Homo sapiens: one gene and its partners. The protein of the gene in region 2 interacts with the protein of the main gene of each other region in a pairwise test. Each region holds a gene or a part of one and is shown on either strand. Other genes may lie near its edges.

Evidence for each region. Proteins that work in one complex are often made in the same cells at the same time.
Region 1: the proteins of GFAP (region 2) and CCDC57 interact in binary tests that used the Homo sapiens proteins (3 or more experiments, as listed by UniProt).
Region 3: the proteins of GFAP (region 2) and RAB38 interact in binary tests that used the Homo sapiens proteins (3 or more experiments, as listed by UniProt).
Region 4: the proteins of GFAP (region 2) and LONRF2 interact in binary tests that used the Homo sapiens proteins (3 or more experiments, as listed by UniProt).

The regions. Positions count from the first base shown.
Region 1 is NC_000017.11:82,199,343-82,202,842, forward strand, and holds part of CCDC57 (coiled-coil domain-containing protein 57), read right to left. Parts: intron 2,611-3,500; coding exon of another isoform or gene 2,603-2,610; coding exon 2,196-2,602; intron 1-2,195. UniProt on the Homo sapiens protein: Pleiotropic regulator of centriole duplication, mitosis, and ciliogenesis. Critical interface between centrosome and microtubule-mediated cellular processes. Centriole duplication protein required for recruitment of CEP63, CEP152, and PLK4 to the centrosome.
Region 2 is NC_000017.11:44,905,501-44,909,000, forward strand, and holds part of GFAP (glial fibrillary acidic protein), read right to left. Parts: intron 2,650-3,500; coding exon 2,564-2,649; intron 1,889-2,563; coding exon 1,847-1,888; 3' UTR 1-1,846.
Region 3 is NC_000011.10:88,168,944-88,172,443, forward strand, and holds part of RAB38 (ras-related protein Rab-38), read right to left. Parts: intron 1-3,500. UniProt on the Homo sapiens protein: The small GTPases Rab are key regulators of intracellular membrane trafficking, from the formation of transport vesicles to their fusion with membranes.
Region 4 is NC_000002.12:100,302,002-100,305,501, reverse strand, and holds part of LONRF2 (LON peptidase N-terminal domain and RING finger protein 2), read left to right. Parts: intron 1-2,458; coding exon 2,459-2,581; intron 2,582-3,500.

The DNA.
Region 1 (3,500 bases), about 37 Mb from region 2:
TGGCACACACCTGTAGTGACAGCTCCTCGGGAGGCTGAGGCAGGAGAACCCCTTGAACCCCGGAGGCAGAGGTTGCAGTGATCCGAGATCGCGCCACTGCACTCCAGCCTGGGCGACAGAGCAAGACTCTGTCTCAAAAAAAAAAAAAGAGTGTGAGACTGAAAAAGTACCTGAACATGGCTGAAAACATCCCAGGTTTGGAGAGAAGAATGAGCAAAAGACTTGAAGAGACACTTCACAACATAACGTAAAGCACTTTTAAAAGGATGCTGTAAACACTCTGGAAAGCAGCTATGAGAAAGTCAGCACCCGCACGGCGGGCAAGTGGGCCTCAGCTGTCCAAGCACTGCACGCACCTGCACGGACTCGGCGCCCAGACGAGGTGCAGGCTGAGCACCAGCCTTCATGCTGGGGACGGGAGCTTCCAGACACCCTCCCTCCACTCAGGGAGAAGCTGACCTCCAGCTCAACTCTCTCTTTCCCTGGACACTGGGCAGGTGGCACACGGGTGTCTACCACATTAGCAAGCAGCACTGCGTGGGTCAAATGACTGCTGACTGGCACTTTTTATCCACGCCGCGAGATGCGATAGAGAGAGGGACCATCAACACTGTGGGCTTCCCAGAAGACGGTGGCGCTCAGGGTACATCTGCTGCAGGGACTGCAGACGCGATCCCTGCGGGCTGCTACAGGAGATACTGGCTGCACAATACTGGTTGGGGCTTCTGAGCTAGAGGGGCACCACACCCACCAATGTGGGTCTCCTCTCCTTGCACCTGACCTGCCGCAGAAGGTCTCTCTGCTGGACCGGAGCACCTGGTGTGGTCCTGTTGGCCCGTTCACACCCATCTGAGACCCTTCTGAGCAAACCGGCCCAACACACACAACAGAGGGTAGCTGGTCAGTTAAAAGGGCGTGGCAGAACCCAGCGCACTGACACGAAGGACAGACACCACAAATCGATCAGGAAGTGCTGGACGCACATTTCGGAGCAGTGTGCGCAGGTGGCTCTATATGGGGCCTGGAGATGACACAACAGATTGCCCGTGGCGGCTTTCACTTCGCCATTCCACCACAGTATCTTCTCTGAGAAATGACTTTCTATGATAAGAATAGTTTACTCCTGCGGCTTTAAAAAGTGCTTTAAAAAGCTGCTTATGGCCAGGCGCGGTAGCTCACGTCTATAATCCCAGCACTTCAGGAAGCCAAGGCCAGTGGATCACCTGAGGTCAGGAGTTCAAGACCAGCCTGGGCAACATGGCAAAACCCCGTCTCTACTAAAAATACAAAAGAAAAAAAAATTAGCCGGGCGTGGTGGTGGGCACCTATAGTCCCAGCTACGTGGGAGGCTGAGGCAGGAGAATCACTTGAACCCGGGAGATGGAGGTTGCAGCGAGCCGAGATCACGCTACTGCGATCCAGCCTGGACAACACAGCTAAAAACTCTGTCTCAAAAAAAAAGAAAAGAAAAAAAATGCTGCTTATGTTAGAAGAATACATAAAACATAAAAAAAGTACCCAGGATCCTGTTAAGTGTAAACAGAGCATGCAGCCGGCTCTCCTAACGTCTGTACACACGCATCACACAGGAAGGGCCTCTGTTAATGTGCTATGATGAACCTGCGGTACTTCTGAAGTGGGGGATGGAAGAGCTTATCAGAGAAGCCTGTCCTCCTTCCTTCCTGTCTCCTCAAACTCTCCACAGCATGGCTGGGTGAGTGGAGCTGAGGGGATACCAGGCATGTGGTTGAGTTCCAGGGGCCCCACCACAGGCCCCACAACAAAGGCTTTAGGTTTTTATGTCGACTTGCCTTAAGTCAGCTCATTTAGTTTTGAAATTACTACAGACTTCCATTAAAATCATTATAAATTCAAATATGTATTAATATAGATTTATAATTAATGAAATAAATTCCAAATATTAAAACCAATCTCCATTAATTTCAGAGTTATATCAGAACCCAGAAAAAGACAGTCAGGGCATTCCTGGATCCATCCACATTAACTCAACAAACACATGTTCAGAGGCCACGAGGCACTCGGCCACTCAGACAGACCAGCTCCCGTGGCCTGGAATCAGCAGCGGGAGGAGGGGCAGTGAGAGTGGGCAGTGCTCGGGCAGCACAGCGGAGCAGGAGGCATGTGGGGGCCTCTGCCAGGCACTGCACAGGAGGGCGCGTCGGTCGGTGGCTCACCTGTGGACGCGCTCCAGCTCCAGGCGATGCTCCTGGAATGCCAGCTGCTGCTGCTGCTGCAGCTCCTCCACCTTCCTGGCCTCTCTGGCTAGCGCCTGCCTCAGCTTAGCTGCCTCTATCTTGAGCTCGCTCACCTCTGCCCGCCTGGCCTCTTCCCACTCCCTGGCCTGGGCGAAGGCGGCGTCATAGCGCTCCAGCTCGAGGTCCCGCTCCTCCAGCACCTGAAGGTTGTAGACAAAGTCCTCCTGCAGGCACCGCAGTTTCCCCTGCGCCTCCTCCAGCTGGCTCCGTGTGTCCTGCAGAGCCGCCTCCTGCAGCTGGGTGCGGTGTGCCTGCAGCGCCCTCCACTCCTCCTCCTTGCGAAGCAGCAGCTCATTCAGGGCGGGCTCTGAGCCCAGTGGCAGCATGGTGGCCGCTGCAGTAAAGAGAAATCAGGTTCAGGGTGCACCGTGAGGGGCCCTAATTTTCCTACCACAGTACCTACCTCACATTCCCTATCAACAGTTACCACGGCCGGGCACGGTGGCTCACACCTGTAATCCCAGCCCTTTGGGAGGCCGAGGCAGGCGGATCACCTGAGGTCAGGAGTTCAAGACCAGCCTGGCCAACATGGCAAAAACCTGTCTCTACTAAAAATACAAAAATTAGGCCGGGTGCAGTGGCTCACGCCTGTAATCCCAGCACTTTGGGAGGCCCAGGTGGATGGATCACTTGAGGTCAGGAGATCGAGACCAGCCTGGCTAACATGGTGAAACCCCGTCTCTACTAAAAATACAAAAAATTAGCCTGCTGTGGTGGCACGTGCCTGTAGTCCCAGCTACTCGGGAGGCTGAGGCAGGAGAATCGCTTGAACCCAGGAGGTAGAGGTTGCACACCAGCCTGGGTGACAGAGCAAGACTCTCTCTCAAAACAAAATAAACAAAAAAAAAAGGCCAGGCATGGTGGCTCACTCCTGTAATCCCAGCCCTTTGGGAGGCCAAAGTGGGTGGGTCACCTGAGGTCAGGAGTTTGAGACCGGCCTGGCCAACATGGTGAAACCCCGTCTCTACTAAAAATATAAAAATTAGCCATGCATGGTGGCGCATGCCTGTGATCTCAGCTACTCGGGAGGCTGAGGCAGGAGGATCACTTGAACCCAGGAAGTGGAGGTTGCAGTGAGCAGAGATCGCACCATTGCACTCCAGCCTGGGCGACACTAAGACTCTTTTCTCCAAAAAATTAAAAAAATAAATTAAAAAAAAGAAATCCAGGGGAAGTAGAGGAAGGGAAGATGGGAAACATGGTTTGTCCAGCTATAAGAGCTAG
Region 2 (3,500 bases):
TGCGGGTGGAATTTGGTGAGGGCATGGGCCCCAGAGATGATCAGTAATAAGAAATGAGTTGGTCTTGTCAAAGGCTACATCTTGGCCCCAGTCCCGCCCTCTCATGAACAGATCAGAGTCCACTCTGGGGAAGGGCGCAGCATTTGTCTTTATTTTTCCTCAGCGACTAAAGGCAGCAGCAGTGCCCTGAAGATTAGCAGCAGCAGCAGCAGCAGGTGGCAGGAAGGAGTGGAGGGAAAGGACACCAAGTCTTGGGGAGAGGGAAGGACCCTTCTTCGGCCTTAGAGGGGAGAGGAGAACCCTGAAGTGGGCCCTCCCAGTCCCATCTCTGGGCACAGATCCCACCAGTCTGCTCACCAGTCTGCTCAGTCAAAGCAGAGTGGGTGCACTGGGGTGGACGTGTCAGCCCTGAGCACCCGGCCTCCAGGCTGCAGGAATATGAGCCAGTGTCTTCACTTTGCTCGTGCCTCAGTTTTACAATTGTAAAATAGGGCACTACCTAGAATACTGGGTACATTTTGTGTGTGAGTAAGAAGGGACCGCAAGAGGCCCTTGGCTTAGGGAAAAGCAGCCGGTCACTATGGGGTGGAGAGGGTCAGACGTGTGGCAGTGGCTTACTGGGGTTAAGAAGCAGCAGTCCCAGGGGCTCAGAGGCTGGGGCGGCCTGGTATGACACAGCAAGGAAGAGGCCTTTAGAAATGGGACAAAGTCATGCCCTGCCCCCATGGATACATCCCCTTTCTCTCCTGTTTCAGCATCTTCAAGAGGATGAGTCACTTCCTTAATTCCCACAATCCAGAGGCCAAGTGCAACTGGTCACCCACAACCCCTACTTGTATGCCTAGCGCCATCCCAATTGCCTCCTCCTCCATCTCTACCAGCGTCCCCTCCAGTCTGCACGGGGCAGTCCTCCTGGGCTTGACCTCTCTGTACCCACAGCTGGGGGCCAGGCAGCCCCCCTCTATCCCTCCCAGCACCTCATCCCTCTCCACGTACACAACAGATCCCCCAAGTGCTGAGAATCAAGCTCCCACCTGCCCACAGCGTGCCCACAGATGGCATCCCTGGATGGCAGCTCAGGTGGACTGAGACACTTGAGTCATCGCTCAGGAGGTCCTTCTGGGATCTGGGCAGGTGACTGCCCCAGGTGGCAGGACGTCCCCACCCATCTTAGACTGATCAGGGTCAGTCTAGGAGAACAACCCTCTGAGCTGGGCATGGTGGCTCCAATCTATAATCCCAGCTACACAGGAGGCTGAGGTGGGTAGACTGCTTGAGCCCAGGAGTTCAAGGTCAGCCTAGGCAGCATAGGGATATCCCACCTCATAAAAACCAAAAGACAAAACAAGCCTCTGGCCAGGGCTACCTTGTCTGTGGGGCCTTCCCTTTCCTGTCTGAGTCTCAGTTTTCCTCCAGCAGCCTGAGGAAACTCAAAGGCACAGTTCCCAGATACTCCGAGAGAACCTCCATCTCTGGCAACAGTTTCCATAACAACAGGAATCAGGGATGTGGAGGGCGATGTAGTAGGTGCCCCCCGCCCTCCTCCCCTTCTCTCCTTCCTCCTCATTCTAACGCAAGCTGCTGGCCATGCCCCTCCAGACTGCCCCTTGGGGGTGAGTTTCTTGTTAGTTGGAGTTGCTGGGTGCTGGGTGGGTGCCGTCTGGCAGGCCTGATACTGACGGAGCCTAGGGCAGCAAGCTGACCTAGGGACAGAGGAGGGAGGGGAGCAGCTGGGGTGGTGGGGAGCTCAGGTCTGGGGAAATGTGCCAGCAGAGGCGGAGCAACTATCCTGCTTCTGCTCGGGCCCCTCATGAGACGGGGCAGAGGCCACCAGGTGGGTCCTGCCTCACATCACATCCTTGTGCTCCTGCTTGGACTCCTTAATGACCTGCAGGGGACAGGGAACGTGCACAGTGCAACAGTTAGGAGTTCACACAGACCCCAGGTCCACCACCACGAGGCTGTGTAACCTTGGGAAGTCCCCGACTTCCCAGGTCTTACTTTTCTTGATAGTAACCACAGCTGCCTTGCGTGGTGGACAGAGGGGGTGGTGAGATAACACTGGGAAAGCATTTAGCGTCATGCCTGGCGAGTGGTAAGCTGCTGGAGTAAGATGAGCTCCCACTGTGGTTGGAGTGGCGTGGCGGATACGCCAAATCCCCTCTTCCCATTCCCCTGGTAGTTTCCTTTTACCAAGCTGGAAATGGAAAGCCCTCCCCATCCCCAACTGTGTCTGCTAGAGTTGGAAGTGAAAGCTACTAACTTTAATTCTCTTTCTCTCCCTGGCAAGCAAGGCCCCCGAGTTTGAGGGTGAGAAAGAGAGAGTGTGTATTAGGATCCCATCTAGTGGCTTTGGTACCAAGGCTCCCCTTAGAACAGCCTATGGAGGGACTGAGGAAACGGAATTACATTCAGTTTCCTTGCTCTCCTCCAGAATTCCCTGGGGAGCTACTGGGAGTTGCTGGGAACCTTCTATGTGCCAGCCCCAGGCTTTCCTCCATGGCCTGGCCTTGAGAATCCCTGGGGCCAGCCAGAGCCTGACTGGGCCCAAATCCCTCCTTACCTCTCCATCCCGCATCTCCACGGTCTTCACCACGATGTTCCTCTTGAGGTGGCCTTCTGACACAGACTTGGTGTCCAGGCTGGTTTCTGCAGATGTGGGGAGAGGAGGCCTCTCATGGACTTTCAGGGCATGAGCCATCCTCTCCCATGCCCGGCTTCCCCATCGCACCCCCCTCCCCATCATGAGTATGAGAACCTATGCAACCGAGCAGAGAGAGCCTAGGCTCTTCCAAACGGGCTGGAGAGCCCCCAAATCCCAATAGTGCTGCTGCCAGAGTCCTGGCTGCTCTGTCTTCTGGCCTGGCTTCATTTCAGCCCCTCTGCAAGCCCTGGCCTGGCACCTGGCTTTCTGAAAACCCAGCACGGTATTGAAATCAGGAGACCAGGAGGGGTGCGGTGGCTCACACCTATAATGCCATCATTTTGGGAGGCTGAGGCAGGTGGATCACCTGACGCCAGGAGTTCGAGACCAGCCTGGCCAACATAGTGAAACCTCTACTAAAAATACAAAAAATAGGCCAGGCATGGTGGCTCACACCTGTAATCCCAGCACTTTGGGAGGCCGAGGCAGGTGGATCGCCTGAGGTCAGGAGTTTGAGACCAGCCTGACTAATATGGTGAAACCCTGTCTCTACTAAAAATACAAAAATTAGTCAGGCATGGTGACAGGTGCCTGTAGTCCCAGCTACTCAGGAGGCTGAGAGAGGAGAATCACTTGAACCTGGGAGGCGGAGGTTGCAGTAAGCTGCGATCGTGCCACTGCACTCCAGCCTGAGCAACAGAGTAAGACTCCGTCGAAAGCAGGCAAGCAAGCAAGCAAGCAAGCAGGAAAGAGAAAGGAAGGAAGGAAGGAAGGAAGGAAGAAAGAAAGAAAGAAAGAAAAAGAAAGATTAGCCAGGTGTGGTGGCTCGCACCTGTAATCCCCTTACTCGGGAGTC
Region 3 (3,500 bases), on a different chromosome or scaffold from region 2:
TCATCACAGCATGTGTAATCTATAGCCAATAGAAAAGAAAGATGTTCTGGGAAGATAAATTTGGCTTTGATACACCTGAGAACTGGAGGAGGCAGAGATTAGAGCTAGCTAAGAGGCTATGATCCAGAACAGGTATGTAAAAAAGTGCTGTCTCTGGTCTATGGCAGTGGGAAAAGAGAGGCATATGTACTATCTGACTTGGAGACTGGTGACATATGAGGGTCAAAAGAGAAAAGATGGCAGAGGTTTCAAGCCTAAGTAACTGGGGGTAAGGTATTTTGGTTAACACAAACTAGAAAGTCCACTGAATGTGGACAAATGTCTAGTTTAGACTTACAAATAGCATCATTTACTACTTATCATTAAGTGGGGGCAAATATGCATACATTGTTTGTATTTCTTTCTTGTTTTTCTTTTCTGTTTTCCAGCTTTGCTACACTGAGCACATATTACTTTATTAATAGAAAAAACAATCCTGTTTTCACACAAACTTTGTTATGCACATGTTCACAGGCAGTATAGGTGAGATATTGTAGAGGAGATGTTCAGCAGGAAGATGGAATTGTAAGCCTGAGCTCATGAGTAGTCAAGGATATAGGCATAGTTTTAAAGTCATCTGCATAGAGTTAAAGCCCTGGGAATGCATGAGATCCTCAAGCAAAGGAGACTGAATTAGAGGGCCAGATGATGAAATTCTGTCTCAAGTTGTGCAGCCCTGACGCACTCACAGGGAATGACTGGTGCTAGGTAAGAGCACAAGAAACATCACACTAGCCTTGAGGTTTTGTCAACTTCCTCAGATTTAGTCTCAGAGAGTAGGAGAACGAGGTGTGGACAACATCTCTGCACCATGAGAGTGTTCTGAAGTTATGTCTATCAATGCTCTTTACTTATTGTTACAGTGATTTGTTTTTGTGTCATCATGCTGATGAAGCTGGGATGAAGAAGTAAATCTTATTCAATTATTATCCTTCTTTGTTTTTCCCTCACCTAAGTACTTTCACATACCAGGCACTTTATATATACATACATATATTTGCTGAAGAAACCAATCACACATATAGAGCTACTTTTTCCAATCCCCTCCCACTCTCAAATGCCTTAGCTTTCCTTGGTCAAGCTGCTACTTGCTTTTCTATCAGAATCAGTCCTCTAAAACCCAGATGACACGACATGTCCTGCCTTGAGGCGTTTTCTCCATATATCCCTCATTCCTACTTTGAAAGTTCACCATTTTTGCTCACTGTACACATTATTTACCCGTAAGAACATAGCATGTTATTTTACGTGGCATTTAGAAAATCTGTAATTAGCTAAGCTAGAAACAAGGCAATAAACTGCCCAGTGGAGCATGGCTCAGACTCGATATGCATTTTGGGGGGTTTTATTTGACACACTCATCGCCAAATTTAGCTCTTTCTACATTCCTAGACCTACTACTTTGACATTTAAGACCCATCTTCTACAACTGCTTGAAGAAATAGTCTTTCAGAAATCGGTACTAAAGAGATAGTTAAGTCCGAATCCTATCTTTGGTTGAATTTCACAACCTGAAAGAACTTCACAAACTCTAAAACAACATAACAATGTGACCCAAATAAGTGTCAGAGTTGCTGGTGTGAAGAGTCAGTTTAAGGACTCCTGACACTGGGCCTGGGCTGCCTTCATCCTGTTACTTTGTCTATGGGACAGTTAATGTATTCTTCTGCTGTCATGTCACATGGCTTAGGTGGGGGAAGCTGGTATAGATGTGCCTTGAGTGGAAATATTTTTCTTATAGGGTAGATCTTATTTTAAGTATTTAGAGGCATTTGTTATTTAGCAGAGCTCTGCAGTCAAACTTTTACATAGCAAAGAAACACTCGAAACACTCTCTAAATTGTCTGCCAACTTAATTTATTTTCCACTATAGCAATATAAAACTGGATTGGGTTTTTTTATTACCAACAGACTTGGTTATCTCACTCATACAAGTAAGCTGAAGCTAAACAGACCGACTGTTCCTATTCTCCTCTGCCACTTATGATCTCAGGCAACTCTCTTACCTCTCTCATTTTTTATCTTTTTAAATAAAATTGGGTTTAGGACTATCTGCTTGTCTACACCCTCAGCAATGCTGGGGAGATCAAGTGGGAAAATGTATGTGAAAACAGTCTGTAATAATAACAATTATGACAACAGGAATAATAGCTAACACTCATTCAGCATTTATTATGTGTCAGGCACAGCTTTGCATAAATTAACTCATTTAATTCTTACAAAAATACTAAGATGCAGGTATTGTTATTATTCCCATTTTACAGACAGAAAACGAAGGCACAGAGGCTAAGTAACTCACACAAGTCACAAAGCTAGTAAGTAAAGAAGCTGGAATAAATGACCATGTGCTACCTATACCCTGAGGACAGTGATAATAAACCTTTTGCTTACAGAGACTACAAAAGATAAAATAAGTATCACAGGAAAATTAAATAATCATCATTTTATAGATGAGGCAATTGAGGTTCAGCAAGGTTTCACAGTTTGCCTAATTATATTTTCAGAGTATCTAAATTTAGAATATATTTAAACTATGTCTGAAGTGCTCTGTTTTCAAATTAAGGACAGTAGAGCAAATCTTTTGAAAACAGATTCAATGGTCAATTTTAAATTCTAGTGGCCTAACCAGCTATTATACTGGGAAATTATAGATTAAATATGCCTGGACATTCATAAGAATAAGGGCTTAAGAAATATTAGCTACTATCCCTATAAATGTCCCAATGCCTAGATCAGAGTCCCAAAGCACATCAAGAGTTCTAGACAAGATAGTACAGTTCTTTTTGAAAGGGTGAATGAGCAATTATAGTCTCTGGATTTGGAGAGTAATAAAAAAGTGGAGTCTCAAGTGTGAACTTTTTGTTTTCATTTTCCCTAAATGACCTATTTTTTTAAAAACTCTATAAATTCACATCCTAATCAAGATAAAATTTTCAGAAATAGATTTTAATTCATTCCTTTTCACTGAATGCACAGTGGTACTTAATAATACCAAAAATCCAGTTAGAAAGGAGAAGGTAAGTTTAACCCACCTACTAATGAAACAACACCTTTAAAAAGAAGGCATAATCCCTGTGGGCCAGCTGTGTGCCAGGCACTCACAGGCCAGCAAGTGCAAACAGCAAGGCTTGACTCTGAGTGAAACGGAACCGGGTCAAATCTGGCTCTTCCTCTACTAGCTGGGTGGCCTCAGGCAAAGTTACTTCATTTCTTTGACTCTATCAGGAGCCTCTGAACACACAGCTGACCTTCTAGCATGGAATCACTGGAATCCAGGCCAACTGCTGTCCCCTATGGGGTTTGGTGGGATTTATCATCTTGTTTCAAGGCCTACTTCACAAGACCCCAGAGATACTTTTTGGAGTCTTTCAAGATCAGACTGGCCAATCTACATGGCTATAAGAGACACATCATGGGAATTTAGTAGATTAAAAAGGGCCCTATTTGGCATTGAACCAAAT
Region 4 (3,500 bases), on a different chromosome or scaffold from region 2:
GCAGTAAGACAGGACCTGAAAATAGACCTTCACATTTACCCATCAGTGGCTGCCAATGTTCTGGAGAATTTTTATACAGAAATAATTAAAATGACATTAACAGGGGTAGTGGTTTACTTCTGGTAATAGTGAAGGAGTGAAGTCGTCATGTGAATCCAGAGGGGAAAACAGTTATAAGAACTGTATTAAAAAAAATAAAGACACTATAAAACATCCAAAAACAGAAGCTGGAGGAGAGTTTCTAAAAAAACCTGCACATGAAAAGGAAAAGAATTGTGTGTGGGTTTTTTGTTTGTTTGTTTTTTGTTTTGTCTTTTTGGTCCCTGAGTTCTGTCTATCTCCACAGCTGCAGCTGCACAAAAACAGTACTGGGACAAACACTCAGGATCACTACGTGAAAGTACCAGGAGTTCAGAGTTCCGAGTTCTAACAGAAGAGCTGGAAATTAGGGGAATCCCTAAAAGCAGAGAAATCCCGGAGTGGATGATTCCCAGCTCTGGCCAAATCCTGGCTTATTTCCAAATTTCATAGGCATCAGGGAGAACCACAAGGCTTAAAAAGGAGCCATGGAGGCTGGGTGCAGTGGCTCACGCCTATAATCCCAGCACTTGGTGAGGCCAAGGCAGGTGGATCACAAGGTCAGGAGTTTGAGACTAGCCTGGCCAATATGGTGAAACCCCATCTCAACTAAAAAAAAAAAAAAAAAAAAAATTAGCCAGGCATGGTGGCAGGCGCCTGTAGTCCCAGCTACTCAGGAGGCTGAGGCAGGAGAATCACTTGAACCTGGGAGGCAGGGGTTCCAATGAGCCATGATTGTACCACTGCACGCCAGCCTGGACGAGCGAGCAAGACTCTGTCTCAAAAAAAAAAAAAAAACAGTCAACTAAAATTGTCTCTGAGTGGGCCCAGATATTATATTTTCCACAAAGAGACTTTGAAGAAGTTATTATGCATAAGTTCAAAGAGTTAAATTGCATGCAAAGAATTGAAGGACAATATGGTACCTTTGACTTAAGAGCAATCTCAACAGGGAGATGGAAACTATAAAAAATGGAAATTCTGGCTGGGTTCATGGTTCATGCATGTATGCCCAATGCTTTGGGAGGCTGAGGCAGGAGGATCACTTGAGGCCAGGAGTTCAAGACCAGCCTGGGAAACATCACGAGACCCCAAGTCTACAAAAAAATTAGCCAGGCAGGGTGGCATGTGCCTGTAGTCTGAGCTACTCTGGAGGCTGAGGCAGATTGTTTGAACCCAGGAGTTAAGGGTCACAGTGAGATGTGATCATGCCATTGCGTTCTAGCCTGGGCAACAGGGTGAGACCCTGTCTCTAAAAAAGAAAAAAAAAGGAAATTCTAGAGATAAAAATTATCAATGCTGAAATTTAAAATTTCTAGGTAGGGTTAATAACACATTATACATGGCAAAATAATCAGTGAAATTGAAGATAGATCTATAGGAAGAGAAATTATTCAATGCAAAAAACAGAAAGAAAAAAGATTAAAGAAAAACAAAAAGAATCTTGGAAACTTGTGGGACAATATGAAGTGGTACAACGTATGTGCAATTGGAATCTCAGAAGAAGACAGAAAATGTTTGGCAAGAAAAAAAAAGAAGAAATAATGGGTAAAAAGTTTCCAAATTTAGTGGGAAACATTAATTTCAGATCCAAGAAGGTTAACTCAACTTATAAGCAATGATAAACTCAAGTCATAATCAAATGGCTAGGCTGTAAACCAAAGATAAAAGGAAAGTCTTGAAAGCAGTAAAGAAAAATGACATGGAATGAGAATGAGAAAAATGACATACAGGGAAATAATATTTATGGTTGTCATCTCATCTGAAACTGTGGAAGCTGGTTGACATTGGAACAACATATTTCAAGTGCTAAGAGAAAGTCTTTCAACTATATGTAAACCAGTAAAAAAAGAAACAAAAATAGTGTTTTTATAGATTTGAGAAAATACTGCATTCATAAGATGAAAAGAAAATGCCATGGGAAATTACTGATCCATATTGTATTTTGTTTACTTTTATTGTGGCACTTAGTATATTATGATTTGTATTGTAATTGTTTTTAGTCGTGTCTGTCTTAGCTCATGAGACTGTAAACTCCTGGAAGCCAGGAAGATGGTAATGACCTGTAACTGCTGAATGAATTTAAAGTGGATAGCCAGTTTTCTCTTAGCACGTCCCTTAGAACTCCTTTGAGCAGAACATTTCAGGTACGGTAGCTCCTGTGTTCTGACTGTAGATTGTATTTATGAGCTATTGAAGTTTGCTAAGTTTCCAGGGTAGAGAAAGTAGCGATAGAGTCATCCTTTGATGGGCTTTGTTTATTCTATGTAATGTGAAATTAAAACAAATTGTTCTAATAAATTTGTTCAGGGAAGTTTGTATTCAAGTATATAATCATGCTGGGTTTTAAAAATGTACACTTTGTCTTCGGTGAATCTAGGGACATCAAGTAAAAGCTCAGGCTCTTTCTGGATTGGGAAGAAGTAAGGAAGTGTTAAAGGAATTTCTCTACTGCCTTGCTCTGAATCCTGAATGTAACTCTGTGAAGAAAGAAGCACAGAAGGTATGAGTTCTGTTAAAGGACTTTCTCTATCAGGTCTTATTTATAGCCTTCATGTCCATGCTGAGTAACCCTTGCATGTGAAATAAACAAGAAATATAATTCTGAATGTTCGTGATAATGCAATAAAAAACGCATGGCAATAATTGTAAGGTTCATACATTGGATAACTTCTAGGTAAACATTATATTTTGTCCCTGGGTAAAGCAGAGTGTTTCATGAGACAGTGTAAACATGCCTCGATTCTGTTGACATAAAGACACATGTTAGGCAAGGTTATTATAGTTTGTGTAGAAGCTTCATAAAAGACATTATGATATATGTAAAATGTATCAATTCGGCTCTATAGGGTGACCTGTAATTTTCAGCAAAGGTTCACCAGCATAGTGCAGAAATACCTGCTCTTTTACCCATCATCCAGTCACACTGAATGTGGAAATCTGTCCTGTTAAAAAGCTTATACAATAGTTACCTGGTATTTACTTAGCATTTCCAATGACCAGCGTTTTTATGTTTTTATGTTTGCGCTTCCCTGTTTTAACACTGTTTATTGTCAACTTCTACCACGTATTTACCCTGTAATTTTTACTTACCTGTGTAGTTCTATTTTCTGGAGCAACAGAAAATGAATCAGTTCTTCCTTGTACAATTCAAACCACGTTAGATGTTTGGGAACAGCTATTATCTTTGCCTTAATGTCACCCTGTGGGCCAAACATTCTTTTCTCACAGAGTGGCGTTTCTAAGATTTCCTCTTCTGGATGTGTTCTAATGTACCCTGTGTTTTAGCATCTACATTTGACAGCCACAGTTGGTGAAATTTTACCTTCACTTGTGTTCACATTAGGGGCATGTTTATTTTTAAATACCTCGTTCCTCTTTTTTAAAAGTAAGAACTTCAGAGCAATGTTGTTTTTTATCTT